Linked DNA regions of Homo sapiens. The protein of the gene in region 3 interacts with the protein of the main gene of each other region in a biochemical or structural test. Each region holds a gene or a part of one and is shown on either strand. Other genes may lie near its edges.

Region 1 (3,151 bases), on a different chromosome or scaffold from region 3:
AAATTTATTTATCAACTAAATACACATAGCACTACGGACTGAATTGTGTTCCTCCAAAATTCATATGTTGAAACCCTAACCCCTAGTGTGTTTGACCTTGACTCTTTCAGTCTTCAGAACTATGAGAAATTGATGCCCAGCACAGTGGTTCACACCTGTAATCTCAGCACTTTGGAAGGCCTCAGTAGGAGGATTGCTTGAATCCAGGAGTTCAAGACTAGCCTGGCAACAAAGTGAGACCACCATTTAAAAAAAAAAAAACTATGAGAAATAAATTCCTGTTGTTTAAGTATGGCATTATGTTATGATAGCCAGAGCAGACTAACATACATTGCAGCATTATAAACAATCTCAGACACTTCACTGATATTCTCTCTCCATGGCATTCTTTAAATTTTTCTTGGTTTTACCTTAAAAGTGGGTGGCAGGCAACGGGAACATGAACTAATGGCTATTGAATGTTGAGTTAGCATCTGTTAGATGCTATACATATATTATCGAATTTAATCCTGGTAGGCATATGTGACACAGTGATCTATAGGGAATGTTTCAATACAACTTTATTGGAAACAAGTGATAGAAAATGTGCACATTTTATAATCCACAATTAGGCGTCTTCTAAATAGTATACACATATAACTACTTTATAACTGTCAACCACTGTGGACAAGGAAAATAAAACACTCCTTGATAATTTTTCTGAAGGATAATCAATAATTTATTTCTCTTTAATTGTCACAATTACCATAATTATCTAGCTACATGACCAATGTCACTACATATCACAGGAAGATTGTCCACCTACACTTTACTGAGACAAAGACAATGGCCATTTATGTGTTAAATGTACAATGGGATGTTAACACCATTTATGTGTTAAATGTACAATGGGATGTTAAAAGCAGTGGCTTTTATGTGTAAGACAAGATGTGGCACATGATTTATTACGAACAGGTTTGATTTAAAATGTATTATGCCAAGAAACAAGCATAGAAATATTTTGGCATTGAGTTATTATTAAAGTAGAAAATAAGTAAACTAGAGAAATAAATCCAGATTTTCACTTACATTAGATACATTGAAGTAGGAAATTAATTGGCTCCTCAGTATTTTTGTGCAAGTTTTTTTTGTTTTCTTTCCTTTTGTTTTTGATTTTTTATAAACGAGTAATATGAATATATCACAAGTAAAAGAAAGATCTCAGCCAAAAAGAAGGTACCAGTATATGAAAAACAAATGAAAAATTACCAGGTATTTTTTGCTTACAAAAAATTTAAACTATAAAGAGTCACAAAATATATATAAAAACGCCACATTGAACGAGGCAATCATACTCTACCGAAACTGGTAGCATCCTCCTAAAATCAGTCGCATGCATTCCATTCATTCGGTCATACAGTGGTCACCGACAAGAAGGCATTATGGACTCTCGTGCCATCTGGAGACTTGGCCCCATGGGTCATCAGTTCTTGGATTGTCATCCAGTTGTCCAAAATTTTCTTGTTTCTCTTTTTCATCATCTTTTTGTGACTCAGTTCAATGATATTGATCTCCTTCTTGCCCTCACTGCCGCTCTGAGGGCTCTCCTTGAGACACTCTAACCTGCTTCGCATCATGAACTCACGGCGACGGCGCTGCTCTTTGGCCCTAACCAGGTGCTGCTTTCTCTCCTCTTTGCTCCAGTAGCGCCCCATTTTCATCTCGCTCATGGTGTCATCGTCTGTGGTCATGCCACTCCGCTCTTCCTTGATCTTTAAGGCACGTTCCTTCAGGATTCGGTCTCGCACGGGTCTCTTTGTGATGTACCGTGTCCCGTCGCTCCTAATTTTCACCTTCCATTCCATCTTGGGCTCTGAACACTTCTGAGACTCCTTGCACATGCTCACCAAGCTGAGCTGACTCTGAGCATACTCGACTGCAGATTTCTGTTGAATTAACTGCATGTAGCTTTGATAATGCCGGGCGTGTGCTGGGATGTTTGCATATCTATATGAGGAGCTGTGGTAAGGAGAGAGGTAAGGGATGTGTTCGCTGACTGCCTTCTCTTGATCAGGAAGCTTGCTGCCTTCTAAAACCTTCTCCTTGCTTTCAGCGCTACAACCTTGCTCAGTGGTTTTGGCTTTGGTGGAGGTCGACTCTTTACTGCTCTGTCCGGAAGAGGACTGGGTGGCTGCCATTGTGCTTCTCAGGTTTTTCTTATTGGTGAGGTTGATCACCCTTGGAAGGGAACTGTCAGGGGAACGGTCTACAGTGAGCGGAGTACTTCTGCAGCTCTCAGCTGTGTTGTAAGCACTAGAACTGTCCTTGTCAGACTTTTCTGGATGCTCCATGATGTCATCTAGCTTTCCCCTTTGCATATCTATGCTGGTGTTATAATTCCGGAATCCTCCATCATGCAATGTCCAGATGTCTCCATACTGGTCTGTCACTTTCTGGAGCCTGTGAGCCTGCATGATATTCTGACACTCAAGCTCAATGTTTCTCAGTTCTTCATTAAGCAACTGTAGCTCATGCTCCACTCCCTCTTGCTCCCCTTGATTGCATTCAATTGTGCTGCTTGAGTAATACAGGTCATACTCTCCATGATTTCGAATCTTGCATTTGAGCTCCAAGAGCTGCCTGAATCTTTCACAGTCCTCATCTGGGTTGCCAATGCAGTCTGAGTCAATGTATTCACCAGATACGAGGCTCTCATTGTACTGAAGTTCAACACTTCCCAGAGTGTCTTGGCTCTGCCCCAGGTCTCTCTTGCTCTTCAAAGATGTGCTATTGGGGTCCTCGGCTGCATTCTCCTGCTCTGAGCTCTCATCATTTCGCAAGCTTTCATCTGTACGTCCTACTCCACTGTCCTTCTCATGGTTGTTGGATGAGGATGTTGCAGTGTCTGTTGTGCCTTCTTCTTCTTCTTGCTTTTTTGGCTAAGAAAATGATGTTGAAAGAACAAAGAAAATTAATGATTTTGGAAGACATTTGTTATTAAAAATCTTGTTTGAAAACCAATGTTTCCTGGCAAAGTTGCATCTCCTAGACAGTTGCTCTAATTTAGGGTCCATCACAATTTTAGAAATAAAGGAAATTAGCTCATGGCAGCTTTTTATACAATGAAATGAAGAAAACAAAACCCGCTTGAATATGGCTATGATATTCACAT
Region 2 (3,688 bases), on a different chromosome or scaffold from region 3:
ATCTGGTCTTTAAGCCAGTGGTTTCCAAAAGCAGCTGACAGAACCCATCAGAAGAGCATTGGATCTGAACTGTCCACTAAGGCAAGCCATTTGTGGCGATTTACATTTAAATTAAAATTTAAAATTCAGTTCCTCAGTTGCACTAGGCACATTTCAACTACTTAACAACCACATATGTCTAGTGGCTGCCCTCTTGAAAGATGCAGATCTAGAACATCTCTTCATCCCAGAAAGTTCTACTGCACTACACTGCTTTAGATTTTCCAAGAGAGGCCCAAAGCTCTGAATGTTTAACACACTCCTCAGATGTCTTTAACAGTCCACTCATAAAATAGTCTCACAAAAATCTGACAACATTACCATTTGCCCAACTTCTTCAAAGGGAATCTGTAGCACAGAATACCCTGGGAATGAATTCCTGGTTAACTAAGCCACTTGATTAAGCACAGGGCCTCAAGCTACAAATCAGGGCTGTGGCTCCCAATCGCGCACAGGGCAATTAACTCAGCTCAGATAACCAGCCAAACCCGGTTCAGCAAACCCTATGTGCATGGATTATACACAGAGGGTGTGTGGGGATGTGTGTGTGAGAGGGAGAGAAAGAGAAAGAGGAGGGAGGGGAGAGAAGATCCAGGAGCACAAACTCAAATGCCCACCAGCAGGCCAAATAGCAACCATGAATTAAGGCCATAAGTGAGAAAATAAGCACAGAGTAAAAACAGTCAAGCATGATGACAATAACTTATCCTCACTGTTAGGGAAGCAATAATGGAGACTGAAGCATTAATAATTCTTTCTAAAGAGAGCAGAGGTGTCTCAGCTCCAACTGATGGTTGCTATGTGGGAAAGTAAAGCCCAGCATTGTCAGAGCTTCCAATTTGCTTTTCCCCCAAAGAAGATAGGAATCTGGAGTTTTGCATGAAATCTCAAAATATTTAAATGCTGACAACTAAGTCAAAATATAACACTGAGCAGACCTACAAAAATATGTCTGTGGGTCACAGCAGGCCCCACGAGCCCTCTGTTTGCAAACTTAGAAGCTGCTCAATGCAAGCTGAGTAGCAGAACCAAAACCAAGTTGGAAGCATGTGTAATGCTGATGGCGAGTCAGTTCTGTCCACATGCTGTAAAGAAGTGAGGTCTGAATAGGAAATAAAGCACTCAAGTAAGTCAGTGCCCAATCAATTGAAAAGCATTTGAGGAATCCAGTCTGGGCCTAGCTTATGTATACAAGAACCTTAAAATCTATTTAGGTAACAAGGCATCAAAGCCTGAAAAGTTTAGAAATTCAAGAGTTCTAGCCTATTCCTCCAGGCTACTCCCACACATTATCATACCAGATTCTTCTAACTACACAAATTCTCTTAGATTCCGATCCCACAGTTAATCAGGGAATGGAATTGTTAGTCTAATCAGACTACTCCCAGTTCTGGGAAGCTGCCTCAACTTGTAAAACAAACATATTATTCAAAATATCTGAATACAGAAAAGATTCATCTTGAAAACCCTATCAAATATAATTTTTCCTTTCCAAAAAAGGGTGTACTCACATACGCAGTCAGAGCCACAAATTGGCCTTTGTAAATTCCAGCATGCCTGCTATTCCACGAATTCAATGCTCTTATTTCTCATTCATTCCAACCCCAGAACACACTATACATCCTCATTACTAGACAAGCCTTTCCCTTATTCACTTCATCCTCAGTGAATACACACACACACACACACACACACACACACACACACAGTCAGCCCTCCGCATCCATGCATTCCGCATCTGCGGATTCAACCAAACCCCAGATCAAAAATATTTAGAAAAAAAACTACGTGTACTGAACACACACACACAATTTTCTTGTCACTATTCCCTAAACAGTATAGTATAACAACTGTTTAAATAGCTTTTACATTGTATTAGGTATTATAAATAATCTAGAGATGACTTAAAGTATACAGGAGGATGTGTGTAGATTACATGCAAACACTGCAGCATTTTATATCAGGAACTTGAGCATCTGCAGATTTTGGTATCCGAGGGAAGTCCTGGAATCAATCCCCTATGGATACTAAGGGACAACTGTCTATATAAAATGAATGTTCACTTTAAGCAATTATTTGAGCACCTTCTATAGGAAGAATTCTTTAAGGGTAGGAGTAGGAGTATTCCTAATGGCACTAAAAGGTCAATAAATACTCTAACAAATTCCATGCTTTTATTTGTTTGTTTTTTTTTAATGAGAAAAGGCCAGAAATGTCAAAATTCATTTTGAAAAACAATGTGTAATAAATTCACTTTCTGTAAATCAGTGAAAGACACTTAAAAGGTTTGAATCCCTAGACAGCAAGGTTTTAAGCCCTGCACTTCATAATAATAATCCCATTAACAAATAACATGTATTGTGCTTATTCTGTTGCTTAATAACAGATTGGTGTGTAGATATCTAAGACACAGTATCTGCCATCAAAAGAGTTTAAAATCCAATGAGTTCAGCCATACGAAAAGATTAGAGTAGATTAGTGATTCTCAACCTTGGCTGGGCATTAGAATCACCTGGAGTGCTTTTTAAAATACCTATGCCCAGGACCCACTCCTAACCCAATGAATGAGAATCTTGGGGGAAGGGACACAGGTATTTGTAATGTTTAAAATGTTTAATGTGAAAATTAGAGGTTACTGAAGTTCAGCCAGGGTTGAGAGTCCCTGCAGGATACAGCTCAATTACCCATTCACCTGTGACACATAATTTTGATGATAAATTTAACTAATTACTCAACGATCCCCACCATAAGCACATAAGAAGACAATCACTTCTCCACTAACAACTTCACTAAATTGGATTTGGAGGCTGGGACACTGATAAAGTGTCAGGATTCGGAGATAAGCAATCCCACAGTTCTCACCTCTCAGTCCACCACGTTTCCAATGGAGTTCATCAAATGGTGGCAGGAACCTCAAAGGCCCAGACTTCAGAGCATAATTAAAGCCTTCCCAAAAGCTCCCCCTGTATCTTCAGGATCGCATCAACCTCTGGCCTTATCTGATGTTGATTCAGGGGGTTCCCAACATTCCACAAATAGGTTTTCTTTGTTCTCAACAGGTAGTGGTTACTTCTCAGACGCTGTCCACGAAATATAGAATGGCATTCTTGGACTTCACTTACTTTCCAAACTTTAGAAACCTCAACTTCATCCTCAATCTTGAAACCTGTCTTTCTCCCATCTACATTACTCAGTGCCTCAGAAAATAATGGACTTACTTTACATTCATGTTCCCACCAAATTTGGTTCTTTATAGCACTCGCCACCTGGATGTCTAAGATCTTGCCCATTTTCCCATTTGTAGTTAGACTGAGGAATATTTTTCATAGTTGATTTGCAAATCCTACAATATTTGCCTCAGAAACTAGATTTTCTACATGTAGACCTCATAAAATATATAATTAAGAGAAACTTGTGGATATCCCATCACTATTCCAGAAGCAAAATTGCTATTTTTAGGTTGATGTGATATAGCAGTTAGTAGATGGAAATGTCTTTTTAAATCAAGCATTAAAAAACAAACAATATGGATAAATTCCAATTCATAACAACATACATAGTACTAGGCTATGCAGTTAATGGCTGAGAGCAAACATCTAAAGACACAGTTCCTGGTTTCTAAACCCAAATCTACGACTTACTTGTCATG
Region 3 (3,688 bases):
GGCTCACCTTTTGTGATGGTGGTGACGGCTGAAAAGGCGGGTCCGAAGGTCGTTTCCATTCTGGTCTAGAGGGAGGACGGAGGAGACCTGGCCTCATTCCGGGACACAAGGAGGACGTGCACATGTGGAGCCCACTCACATGCCTAACACGCGACCAGGCCAGGCCACGCAGCACTCACACACTTAACCATGCGACCAGGCCACGCCACGCAGCACTCACACGCTTAATCATGCGACCAGGCCGCGCCACGCAGCGCTAACACGCTTAACCATGCGACCAGGCCAGGCCACGCAGCACTCACACGCTTAACCATGCGACCAGGCTGCGCCACACAGCACTCACACGCTTAACCATGCGACCAGGCCAGGCCACGCAGCACTAACACGCTAAACCATGCGACCAGGCCAGGCCACGCAGCACTCACACGTTTAACCATGCGACCAGGCTGCGCCACACAGCACTCACACGCTTAACCATGCGACCAGGCCAGGCCACGCAGCACTAACACGCTTAACCATGCGACCAGGCCAGGCCACGCAGCACTCACACGCTTAACCATGCGACCAGGCCGCGCCACGCAGCACTCACACGCTTAACCATGCGACCAGGCCGCGCCACACAGCACTCACACACTTAACCATGCGACCAGGCCGCGCCACGCAGCACTAACACGCTTAACCATGCGACCAGGCCGCGCCACGTAGCACTAACACGCTTAACCATGCGACCAGGCCAGGCCATGCAGCACTCACACGCTTAACCATGCGACCAGGCCAGGCCACGCAGCACTCACACGCTTCAGCATGCGACCAGGCCAGGCCACGCAGCACTCACACGCTTAACCATGCGACCAGGCCAGGCCATGCAGCACTCACACGCTTCAGCATGCGACCAGGCCAGGCCATGCAGCACTCACACGCTTAACCATGCGACCAGGCCAGGCCACGCAGCACTCACACGCTTAACCATGCGACCAGGCTGCGCCACACAGCACTCACACGCTTAACCATGCGACCAGGCCAGGCCACGCAGCACTAACACGCTTAACCATGCGACCAGGCCAGGCCACGCAGCACTCACACGCTTAACCATGCGACCAGGCTGCGCCACACAGCACTCACACGCTTAACCATGCGACCAGGCCAGGCCACGCAGCACTAACACGCTTAACCATGCGACCAGGCCAGGCCACGCAGCACTCACACGCTTAACCATGCGACCAGGCCGCGCCACGCAGCACTCACACGCTTAACCATGCAACCAGGCCGCGCCACACAGCACTCACACGCTTAACCATGCGACCAGGCCGCGCCACGCAGCACTAACACGCTTAACCATGCGACCAGGCCGCGCCACGTAGCACTAACATGCTTAACCATGCGACCAGGCCAGGCCACGCAGCACTCACACGCTTAACCATGCGACCAGGCCAGGCCACGTAGCACTCACACGCTTAACCATGCGACCAGGCCAGGCCACGCAGCACTAACACGCTTAACCATGCGACCAGGCCAGGCCACGCAGCACTCACACGCTTAACCATGCGACCAGGCCGCACCACGCAGCACTAACACGCTTAACCATGCAACCAGGCCGCGCCACGCAGCACTAACACGCTTTACCATGCGACCAGGCCAGGTCACGCAGCACTCACACGCTTAACCATGCGACCAGGCCGCGCCACGCAGCACTCACACGCTTAACCATGCAACCAGGCCGCGCCACACAGCACTAACACGCCCCAACCACACACGCACGCGTGCGCGCGCGCGCGCGCGCGCGCACACACACACACACACACACCACACCCCCCCCCACCGAGCTCCCCTGAGACCCCAGCTCGGGACGGGACTGCGCTGGGAGCTCTGCAGGCAACACCAGATCCCTGGGGCATGCTGGGGGTCCTGGGGATGTTGGGCTTGCAGAGGGGCACACCCTTACCCCTGTGGTGACGTCTGGGGTGGGAAGATTGCTGGGCCCCCCGGAGAAGCGGTTGTAGCGGGCACTCTTGCCTGAGCTCATGCTCTAGAGAGGCATCTACGGTCCTTGGGAAGCACCTCCTGTGGGTGGAGCACAAATGAGGGGCTTGAGAGATGGAGCCCAGGCCCCTGTGAGTCAGACGGGCTGCTGCAAGTGTGCAGACCTGCTGTGGGGCACCGTGGGGCCGCCGCAGCAGCCTTCCACCACCAGCCCCGGCTCAGGCAGGCCTCTAGGAGGCAAAGGTCCTTCACCCCGATCCCAGGTATGCAGAGGCCCGGGCAGGCAGGCGGCTCTGCGTCACCGTCCCTCAAGGCTTAGCCTTTCTGAGCTCCCGAAGAGCCCATCCAGCTCTTCCCCGAGGTGGAGGGACCCCTGCCTGGCTCCCTCTACTCCTCTGGGTCCTGAGTCACAGCCAGTCACCTCCAGGCTGAATGTCCCTGGGGCCAAGGCTGGGCCTTGGTGGGTAGGCCCAGGGTGTGGCCCACGTGGCGGGACGCAGTCACACAGGGACCAGCCAAGGCACGACGAATGTGTTTCCTGCCACGACAGGTGCGGTCAGGACCCAGCCAGCACCAGGCTGCAGCGGGGAGACACCAGCCACACCCCAGAGAAAGAACCTGCAGGGTGAGTCACCGGAGCCCAACTCCACACAAACCGCACTGCACGGAAAAAAGCACAGGAGAGAGATGAGCCCGCCCCTGGAACCCGTGCAGGTCACCCACACTCCCAGCCACGCCACAGGGGCTCAGGGGCTGGTGGGTGGGGGGGCAGGGAGAAGGCATGCGGGAATCACCCTCCCCAGAAGAGAGGGGCTGGTGGGCCTGGGGGAGACGTGGCCCCTCCGTGGGTGCTGGGAGTGCTGGCCAGGCCCAGGGACACCAGTAGGGGAAGGTAAACATTAGAGAGAAAAAGAGACCCAGCCAACAGGTCACACCCAGGACAGAGCCCGGGGAAGGGGCTGTCCATGCTGGATGACGCCCACTCTCCCCCCGTGAGGCACCAGGCTCTGTCAGCAGGCGCCCCTCCTCCCGAGCAGGTCCCACTTTCAGGACTTGGGCAGCCTGGAAGCCAGGAGCCTGGCAGAATGCAGCTGGGACAGCCCTGTCTCCTGCTGGCAGCGGATAGCGCAGCCGAGCCCCGGCTTGAAGCTGAGCTCCCTGTGGGGAGGAAGGCCACGTGCCCAGGACTCCTGCCCCGGGCCCACCTGCACTGTCCACCTCGAGGCCCATGCGCAGCACCCCATGAGGACACACCATGGGCTCAGCTCCCAAGGCAGGAGCCCTCAGAACAAGCTTGCTCTGGGGGCGGTGCAGCAGCAGGGAGCCCACTCCTGCGGCCCTGCTCTCACCCTGGGGAAGCCGGGCTGCAAACCAAGGCCCCAGGGGCCTGAGAGGAGCAGGACAGTCCCAGTCCCAGGCCAAAGTGGCGGAGCTGGTCTCTGCCCCCACCCAGCAGGAGCACAGCTCAGGGGGCATCACTGAGCCCAGCTGGCTCCAGTACCTCCTCCATCAGTCCCTCCTGACTGGGTCCCTTTGGCCATGCCCGCCCTGCATGCGCCTTCAAGATGCCACTCATCACCCACCACCGTGCCCACAGTCTGGCCTGGGGCCCCCCAGCCCGGCCTACAGGTGTGCAGGGAGGGGCTGGCTCTCAAGCCCTTGGTTCCCTGCACCTGAGCTCCTGGGCTGTCTACCACTCCTGCTGTCT
Region 4 (3,688 bases), on a different chromosome or scaffold from region 3:
CCCTGACTCTCCTCCTCAAGCCCATCACCCACTGCTTATCTGCCGTCGAACCAGGTCTTCCCCACTGTGTCTATGTAGCATTGCCTTAAAACAAGACAGCCTCCTTTGCCCCCAATATTCTAATCTAAAAATCCCGGGAAGTCTGTAAGATCCAGGAAAAGTCTTTGCCTCCAAGAGGATGTTTCCAATCCACCAGGAAAAGCCAACTTCCCCTTCCCCCGAGATTGCAGCCTTGGCCCTCAGCCCCCGTGGCTGTAGCCCTGAGTGTAAATCCCTGTATTTTCCATCAGAGCTGCAGCCCCTTCAGGAACAGGGCAGGACCACATCTTACCCCTGCAGCCGGCAGAAAGGAGGCCAGAACAAGCACCAGGTCCAGCACCCTGGGGCAGGGATAGGAAAAAAAGCACCTTCCAGAAACAAAAGCCATCAAAATTAACATAAAAAGATGAGATTAGCTAAAAGAGAAGTGCTCCTCCCTATCAGGTGGTTTGCAAAGGTGGCCTGGTGGTAAAACCTCCAAGGATAACCAACACATTACTAGGCCTGGACTACCGTGAACGGGGAGCCCACATATGCGAAGGCGTGGGTGTGTACCCAGCAGCGTCTGAGCAGAGGGTGCGGGACTGCCACGCCCGAGACAGGAGGCCCGCCAGGGAGTGGGGCTCGGCTACTCGCCAGGCTCACTGCACTGGAGGGGGTTTCCAATCTGTAGACCTGAGGTCAGCCTCCACCCATGGCACTGGCACAGGCAAGACTGCTGCACAGACTGGTGATGTGGCCTGTTCCCCACACATGCTAAGTGACATAAGACGGAGCCAAATGCCCAACACACAAAATTAATTACTTAAGACAGAGAGAACACAAAGAAGAATTCTTGCTGGGTCAAGAAACTGTCCCCTTGATTCCGTTTAGCTTCTCACTGAGTCCAGTCCACTGTCCCGCCAAGCCCAGCATCTCTCGGGACACAGAGGCGTCCCCACTCACCGCTGGTTGAAGGTTCCCGCTCAAAGGACAGCGACAGTGATCCTCTGGAAGAGAAGGCGGAGTCCACCGAGGACACCCCCGAGAGCCTCTTCCCACTGCCGGACGATGGCAGCTTGGACTCAGAGGAGCTGCGGCTGAGCTCCTCGGGGCCCTCGACAGCCTGGGAAACTCCAGAGTCCAGCTGTGAGAGCAGCTCGGAGAGGCTGTAGTCGTTATCGAAGGTGGGGGCAGAGGCCCGCTTGAGCCTCGCAGGCACCACCTGCGAAGATGCAGAAGAGGGGGTGGGTGAAGACCCTGCCATAGACCGCATGGCCCGCCCATGACACAAACACAGAAGAGCAAGGTGGGCCACGGGAGGGAGATGGGGGAGGAAAGGACGGACCCTGGAAGCAATGCAGATAACCTATTGGTCACCGAGCTCAGACCCCGCATCGGCACAGCACTAGGGAGCTCAGACGCCATGTCCACACAGCGCCGCGGAGCTCAGACCCCGCGCCCGCACAGTGCCGGGCAGCTCAGACCCTGCACCCGCACAGCACTTGGGATGCTCAGACTCTGCACCCGCACAGCGCCAGGGAGCTCAAAGACTTGGAGCTACAAAGACTTGCGCTGGCCCCACCCAGCACGGAGACATCTTAAGGAAAGATAGCCTTCATAAAAGTGCAAAATCCAGCCTCATGCAGCTCTGGATACCATCTGCTCAGTAACACTGCACAGAGCGTCACCCAGACAAAAGGCAGGCGGTGTCAAGCTGCAGAATGTGAGGCATGTATGGCGGGACACAGCTGCCCAGCACAGGCCAGCGTTGGCAGGAAACGAGAGGACAGACAGGAACTGGGCAGGACCCCCACACGTGGCCACAACTGCGACCTCCCCGCGGAGCCACGTGGGGCTGGCCTGGGGGCTGTGTGGGGACGAGGGAAAGGGGAAGGACCCGGCTACAGGGACGAGGGGTGATCCAATCCGACATACACCGATGGGGCCTTTTAAAGAGTCTCGCTTCATGGACTGCAGGGGCAGCAGGTTTCTGGTGGGTAAGTGGAATCTGACGGGATTTCACGCTTCTTCCCTTAGGCACACCTGTTTGCCCCAACTCCCCACCCTTTGTGGGACGGCTCGAGGTCCCGCACTGTTGCTGGGTGTACCGAGCCACCCCTACATGTTGGTTGCCTTCTTTCCCTTATCAGGGCCCAGGTCTGCCTCTGTACTAGCAACCCCCGGGCACCTTTGCTCCCGGGCTCACTGGCACACATGCACTTTATGTTGAGGCAGTGGGCGCATATTCCTGATATACATATTTCCTGATCTCCTGAGCTCACACCAACAGCCTGGGATTAATCGCCCAACACCAGATAACACGTTATAAAGCTCACTTATCAGCTGGGCCTCACAGGTCTGCTCCAGCCTCATCACCCGAAAAGGCATTTAGCCAGCCCTGCTACTTGGAGCTTCTTATCACATCTGAAATCACCTGGGTGGCACTCATCAGAGTGCAGACCATTTATGGGCAGCTATAAAGGAACTGGATCCCCGAGCCAGGGGTGCAAAGACACTCAGACACCAGCTCTCCCTCCCCGGCCGGGGCTGGGCCTTCTGATCCCCGTGGTCCACACACATCCAATGAGTGGCTATTTAGTGTCAGGGAAGCCCTTCCGCCACTCACGCAGAATCAGACAGGAGGTGGGGCGGGGATGCAGTCGGGCAGGTGGACCTGAGCCCCCATGGGACCTACACTTCTAATGGAGTTGGGTGCGGGATGGGCTCAGAAGAGAGGGAGAGTGGTCCGGGCGGCGGGGGACTCTGCAAAGAGGAGTGGTTTGGAAACTCCTGCCTGGAAGCCGAGGAGACAAAAGACCCCTGTGGGAAGGACTCGTTACCTCGCTCCTGGGCTCCGGGGGGCTTTTCACGTCCAGATCATGAGCAGTTTCTTTCACTTCGTCATCAGGCTTTTCACACAGGTCCTCGGTTTCAGAAGTAATTTCTTGTGGGGAAGAAAGGGGACATGTCACTCGGATGATGACTTCTGCGTACACACGCGTTCCATATAAACGCAGGGCCCCCACGAGCTGGGGGATTTCTCACACGCCTCGGCCCAGCCTGAGCTCACCAGGCAAGCCCAGGGGCCCTACATGGACAATTTGCTGGCCAAACCCAGGCCCCCCCATCGGTAATCATTTGAAGGCCTCACCAGACTCAAGGCGGAAGCCTTCCCCGGGGGAGCGCCACCTGCCAGTCACAGGGAGCAGAGCTGCCAGCACCTGGCGGATGAGCTCCCCATTCAGCCCGTTTCCTGCCGTAAGCTTTAAATGCAGCAGTTTCCATCTCATCAGGGTGACTTTCCTATGCCAGAGACACATCTGTCCCAGGAAGTCAACTCCTCAAGAGAAGGGCGACGCCGCCGGCCACCGGCCAGGTAAGTCCCCGGGAAGAGCATGGCTGCACCTGAACTTCAGGCTCCCATACAGACTCCTCTGGGTGGCAAGCCCAACCCTGGTGGGGAGCAGGGGGCGGATGGTTGGAGGCAACTCAGTTCCAGCTGCCGTGGCCGAGCCGTGAGTACCAGAGGCCGCAGGCAGGTGCTGGGTCCAACCTATCTGTGCAGGGCTCATTTCGGCCCACCTGTTACACGCCTTGTTTCTCACCCAGGCCTGGTCCCTCACCCTGTCCTGTCTGTCACCTCTGTCTCCTGTGACACCCACAGAAT

The links.
Region 1: the proteins of TRAF7 (region 3) and PDZRN4 interact in a test that uses a peptide from one of them, tested with the Homo sapiens proteins (one large-scale study listed by IntAct).
Region 2: the proteins of TRAF7 (region 3) and PARD3B interact in a test that uses a peptide from one of them, tested with the Homo sapiens proteins (one large-scale study listed by IntAct).
Region 4: the proteins of TRAF7 (region 3) and RIPK4 form a complex in vitro, tested with the Homo sapiens proteins (one study listed by BioGRID).

The regions. Positions count from the first base shown.
Region 1 is NC_000012.12:41,572,131-41,575,281, reverse strand, and holds the end of PDZRN4 (PDZ domain-containing RING finger protein 4), read right to left. Parts: intron 2,919-3,151; coding exon 1,392-2,918; 3' UTR 537-1,391; downstream 1-536.
Region 2 is NC_000002.12:204,548,472-204,552,159, reverse strand, and holds part of PARD3B (partitioning defective 3 homolog B), read right to left. Parts: intron 1-3,688. UniProt on the Homo sapiens protein: Putative adapter protein involved in asymmetrical cell division and cell polarization processes. May play a role in the formation of epithelial tight junctions.
Region 3 is NC_000016.10:2,162,256-2,165,943, reverse strand, and holds part of TRAF7 (E3 ubiquitin-protein ligase TRAF7), read right to left. Parts: intron 2,062-3,688; 5' UTR 2,024-2,061; coding exon 1,943-2,023; intron 88-1,942; exon of another isoform or gene 66-87; coding exon 8-65; intron 1-7. UniProt on the Homo sapiens protein: E3 ubiquitin and SUMO-protein ligase that plays a role in different biological processes such as innate immunity, inflammation or apoptosis. Potentiates MAP3K3-mediated activation of JUN/AP1 and DDIT3 transcriptional regulators.
Region 4 is NC_000021.9:41,742,898-41,746,585, forward strand, and holds part of RIPK4 (receptor-interacting serine/threonine-protein kinase 4), read right to left. Parts: intron 2,966-3,688; coding exon 2,862-2,965; intron 1,244-2,861; coding exon 985-1,243; intron 1-984.